2 separate regions of the Homo sapiens genome follow, and region 2 is linked to region 1. The links come from fine-mapping of genetic effects on gene expression. A gene starts in region 1. The other region holds a variant in brackets. All regions are shown on one strand. Distances are from middle to middle.

Region 1 (3,021 bases):
ACGTACTATATTTTTCCTGAAGCTCAAATTCAGGGCTAGCCAGGACCAGTACACACCCCCAGAGCTATTTCATTCCATTGGCTGGCTGGCCATCCGCAGCCTACAACCTGTAAATTTACTGTCAGGACGCCAGGTGTTTATTTGTCAGAGATATTACATTGCTTGTGATTTTTTTGTGTTTTTCCTTTTTTTTGGTATAAAACAGAACTTGTCAGAATGGGAAAATTACTTAATTGAAACGATTAACGCGTGATTAGTAAATTCCTTTGGTTAATAAAACTGTCTAGATTTCAAACTTAGAAGCCAAGTCATTTTCTATGTTCGGATATCATCTGTCACTATTGGAACAGGAGTGAACAAATACCAGAAAATAATTTGACAGCTTGCATTTAGGGGAGACTCACAAAAGCCCAAGAACACTGACGAGGCATTATCACACGGGCAGGTCATTCCCTTTCCTAGAAGTGCATTTCGGCAGGACCCGCCGTGTGTGACACAGACACCGGGACCAAAAGGAGACCGGTGCAGCGTCTACTCTGCATGCAAGATCAGCATATACAGAGGCCCGGGGTGACGGCGCGGGGGAGGGGGCAGGCCAATCGCATGATGATTTTAAGGCGGAAAAATCACCATCCACAGAGCCGGCCACATCCGAGGCGGGGTGACCCGGGCGGGGACCCGGCCCGCTCCAGCTGGGCTGGGCTGGGCTGAGCAGCGGCCCCGCACCGGCAGGAGGCCGGAGGGGAGGGCCGCAGGGGAGGCAGGGAGGGCGGGACGGGGCCCGGCCGACGCTCACCTCCCTTGCAGGGCGTGCGGTGCTGGCTGTGCTGGGCCCGGTAGCCTTCGATGACCTCCCAGGAGCCGTCGTCGCGCCGGATGGGGAAGGAGAGACTCAGCACATGGTTGCAGGGCTTGATGATCCGCAGGATGCCGCGCACCCGGTTCCGCTTCTGCTCCTCGCTCTCCCGGGTCCTCAGGTCCTCCACCAGCTTGTCCTCCACGATGCTGGCGCCGCGATCGAAGAAGCCCTCCACCATCTTGAAGAAGTTGGGGTCGTCCTCGCGGTCGGCCACCGCCTCGCTGTAGTGGCGCCGGGCGGCCAATGCCAGCCCCGGCTGCGGGGCGGCGGCGGGCTGTCCCCGGGCCCAGCCCAGCAACGCGGCCGAGTCGGCGGACGCCGAGCCCAGGGCAGCGGGCCCGGCCCGGGACAGCAACAGCGCTTCGCCCAGGTAGCGGTACATGGCCACAAGCGGAGGGGAGGTGCGTGATGGTCGCGAAACAGGCGCGCTTTCTCAGACTCCCCGCGACTAGGGAGGAAGGGTCCCGCGCGGGTTGCCCTTTTAAGCCGCAGCTTCCTGCTTGCCCGGCTGTCCCCTCCCCTCGGGCGCTCGCCACCTAACGGGGAGGACGGACTTCGGGGACAGGGCGCCGCCCAGGGCGCCGGGCCTCCGCCTCCGCCGCGGCCTCCCCGGGCCTCGCTGGCGGCAGCGCGCGCCGGCGGGGCGTCGGGGGCGCGCAGGCGCGGGCGGGCTCGGCGCGCACGCTCGCGCGCCAGTGGGGAAGGGAGGGGAGGGGAGAGGAAGGGCGGGGAGGAGAGTGGAGGGGAACGGACGGGAGGGGCAGGGAGGGGAAGGTCGGGGCGGGTCGGGGCGGGTCGGGGCGGGCCCACGGGCGGCCGGATTTGCCCGGAGGCCGCACCCGCCTCCGGCGGGGCTCTCAGGTATGTGCGCCGCGGGGGTCCCTCAGGGGGGTTGGGGGTAGCCCAGGGAGGTCGGGGTCGGGGGCTGGCCTCTGTAGGGCGCTCAGAGGCCGAGTCCCCCCGAGCGCCGCGTGGGTGAGGCTTGGCGGTCTGGTCGGGGACCGGGTCATGTGAGTCACGGGCGCCCCTCCTTTCCGCCCGCGCGCCCTCGGAACGGGCGGCCCACCCTGGCCTGTCCTCTGGCGGCCTCAGGCCGGGGCCGGGCGTGCAGGGGCTGACACGTGGGCAGGAAAGCGAGGCAGAGCCGCCGCCGCGTAAGGCCGGGCTGAGGGCTCGGCGTCACCAGCCAGGGCTGCAGAGAGCGGCGTGGCACCCGGAGTTGGATTATGCGTGGCTGGCGTGAGCTGGAAGGGAGTCACTCGCCCACAAGCTCTCACCACGCGAGCTTTTATTGTCCCGTTCAACTGCTCCGCAGTGTGGAGATCGCATAGTTACGCACGTCGTGGTTGTGTCGCCCCACAGTACTGACTGCTTCACCTTTGCAGACAGAGGCTCCGGCCCGGCGCGGTGGCTCACGCCTTTAGTCCTAGCACTTTGGGAGGTCGAGGCTGGAGGATGGCTTGAGCCCAGGAGTTCGAGGCTGCAGTGAGCTACGATAGCTCCACTGCACCCCAGCCTGGGCAACAGAGGGAGACCCTATCTCCCTCTGAAATAGTCTAAAATAAGGAAACTAGAAATGCGATAATGCCCCCAGGAAATTCTTTCTCAGGAATATATGTATTTGTTAAATGGTTCAGTATATGATTTATTTTTTATTTTATTTATTTATTTGAGATGGAATCTTGCTCTGTCGCCCAGGCGGGAGTGTAGTGGCACCATCTCGGCTCACTGCAGCTTCCACCTCCCTGGGTTCGTTCTAGCGATTCTCCTGCCTCAGCCTCGGGGTAGCTGGGATTACAGGCCCGCGCCACCACGCCCGGCTAATTTTTGCATTTTTAGTAGAGACGGGGTTTCGCTGTGCTGGCCAGGCTGGTCTCCAACGCCTGACCTCAAGTGATCCGCCCGCCTAGGCCTCCCAGAATGCTGGGATTACAGACGTGAGCCACCGCGCCTGGCCTCAGTATATGATTTATAAGCTTTATGCTGTATGAGGGTTCAGTTATGTATTTATACATACTTGATAGGAAATGCTAAAGTTCACATTCCTATGGATAGCTTTTGGTGCTTTTCAAACTAACGAGGCTGGCACGGTGGCTCACGCCTGTAATCCCAGCACTTTGGGGGCCAAAGCAGGCTGATCGCTTGAGGCCAGGAGTTCAAGA
Region 2 (2,500 bases), 86 kb after region 1:
CCCAAAGTGCTGGGATTACAGGCGTGAGCCACTGCGCCCGGCCCCTATTTGGCTTTTCACTATGATCAGTTTAAGAGAAGACAGGGCAAGGAGAGAGGACATGTTAGCTAGTTTCAAGTATTCGAAGGGATTTCTTCTAAAGGAGGTATTGAACTTATTTTGCCTGATTCCAGAGGATGGGGAAGGAAGGAAACATCACATGTTCAGCCAAATTAGCCAAGTAAACCTGCTCTCAGTTGCAGCCAGACATCCCTGCCCTTAGATTCTAGGAAAATAGTAAAGAAGACGAAGAACAAGACCTCAGTGTATCCTTTTACTACAAGTGACTGTAAATCAACTATAAAATTAGCCATGTTTGTAAATTAAAGTTATAATTTTGGCCCAATAATTTATAATATATCTGTTTGTTGTTTGTAGGAGTGGTTCTGATTAAAGCCCAGATTTCAGAGCTGGCATTTCCTATTACAGCATCTCAGAAGATAGCGCTAAATGCTCACAGTTCTCTGAAGAGTATTTTTTCTTCTCTTCCCAACATCGTATATACTGGTTGTGCAAAATGTGGATTGGAACTAGAAACAGATGAGAACAGGATCTACAAACAATGTTTTAGCTGCTTGCCATTTACTATGAAGAAAATATATTATAGGTAAGGCAACTAAGCAAGCCAATTTGATGGAAAATAATTATTATAGATCTGGAAAAATTAGTCTGTAAACCCTTACTTTCTAAAAATAATTAACTAGAGCTAGTCGAAGAGAATAAAATTTTCCGAGTGATAGATAGCTATTTATGGAAGCAAAAATTACCCAGGAATCGTTATAGGAATTTCTTAAAGATAGGAATTTCTTAAAGCAGTAATTGGGAGATTTTATTGTCTTCAAACAGCTGTACCAAAGAAACATTTTCCTTGGTTTACTTTTTAACCAAAATCTAAATGCTCATAAATAACTCATTTTCCCACCTTAACATAGAATTTAAGGGCTAAAAGTATCATATGATCTCACCTCTGAGTTGTTGTGGAAGCTAGTAAGACATTTAAGGTGTTTTCCCACCTTTACCTTAGAAATTAAAGCTAGCAAATAAATGTTGTATGGTAAAACTGCTAATCAGCTCAGTGAAAAACACATTGTTTTTTGAATAATAGGTAGTCAAAAGCTCAGATATTTTTCTCTTTACCTCATAAATTACATGTGTTTACAAAATAGCACTCAGTGTTTTATGCTCCTTATGATTATTTCTAAATATTGCGGTATCTAAAAACCAAATTCAGATATATTCCACATGTTATCATGGCATACTTCAAGAAAAGTTATAGAAGCTTAATTTGTAAACCTTATTTCTCTTTACAGATATTATGTTTGTTATAAATAAGTGAATAAATTTTGCTATTACTGTGAAAGTTGCTTTTGTGGAAAAGAAGATTGAATTAAGATGTATGGTAGGCTGGGTGTGGTGGCTCACGCATGTAATCCCAGCACTTTGGGAGGCCGGGGTGGGGGGATCGCTTGAGCCCAGGGGTTCAAGACCAGCCTGGGAAACATAGGGAAACCCCATCTCTAC[C/CA]AAAAAAAAAAAAAAAAAAAAAGCTGGGCAGGTGACATAGGCCTGTAGTCCCAGCTACTTGGGAGGCTGAGGCAGGAGGATTGTTTGAGCCCAGGAGATCGATTGTTACAGTGAGCTATGTTTGCACCACTGCACTCTAGCTTGTGCAACAGAGTGAGACCCTGTCTCAAAATCAAAACAAAAAATGCATGGTATGTAACAAACAACATTGATTTATTAATAGTTAAGGCCCCTCAAAAGTATGTATAGGTGACTTATTTATGTCATTCCAAATGTTTCTATTCAATATAAGCATTTATTGGACAAAAATGTTGCTCAATACTATTCCTTATGGGGAGGAGGGCCTTTGAATCTTTAGTTTACAAAATGACTGTTCAAGAGAAGGACTTCACAGATCAGTATCACCTGATTATGGCATAACTAGTATGAGGTATTTAAGATCTCTTCCTAAACTATACCACATTAAAGATGTAGTGCTAGTTTGTTGTCTTACTAGAATGTTGAATGGTCATGTTAAGGCAAGAATTATTATTTTTTATTTATTTACAAGCCTTTTTTTTTTATTTTTTGAGACAGAGTTTCGCTCTTGTTGCCCAGGCTGGAGTGCACTGGTGCGATCTCAGCTCATCGCAACCTCTGCCTCCCAGGTTCAAGTGATTCTTCTGTCTCAGCCTCCCAAGTAGCTGGGATTACAGGCATGTGCCACCACGCCTGGCTAATTTTGTATTTTTATAGAGACAGGGTTTCTCCATGTTGGTCAGGCTGGTCTCGAACTCCTGACCTCAGGTGATCCACCCGTCTCAGCCTCCCAAAGTGCTGGAATTACAGGTGTGAGCCACCAAGTGCAGCCTAAAAGCCTTTAAATTGTTATTAGAGTCCAGATTATATGGTTTCCTTGAAAAGAAAATATTGAAATTAACAAACTCCCTTCAAGTTATCA

Evidence for each region. PIP is the estimated chance that this variant, and not a neighbour inherited with it, causes the effect.
Region 2: its variant is fine-mapped to the expression of SHLD2 in whole blood (INTERVAL, PIP above 0.99).

The regions. Positions count from the first base shown.
Region 1 is chr10:87,093,529-87,096,549 of GRCh38, forward strand. SHLD2 (shieldin complex subunit 2) reads left to right here and starts at 1,678. Exons shown (of 10, transcript NM_001330112.2): 1 at 1,678-1,720. It overlaps GLUD1 (glutamate dehydrogenase 1), which reads right to left and starts at 1,315. Exons shown (of 13, transcript NM_005271.5): 1 at 797-1,315. The coding sequence starts at 1,241. RefSeq lists silencers at 549-888, 1,089-1,228, 1,349-2,048, 1,969-2,226 and an enhancer at 2,269-2,328.
Region 2 is chr10:87,179,658-87,182,157 of GRCh38, forward strand. SHLD2 (shieldin complex subunit 2) reads left to right here. Exons shown (of 10, transcript NM_001330112.2): 8 at 418-646. Among named protein-coding and RNA genes, the nearest start is that of NUTM2A, 45 kb to the right of the region's middle. The variant C/CA (reference allele first, on the strand shown) is at 1,561.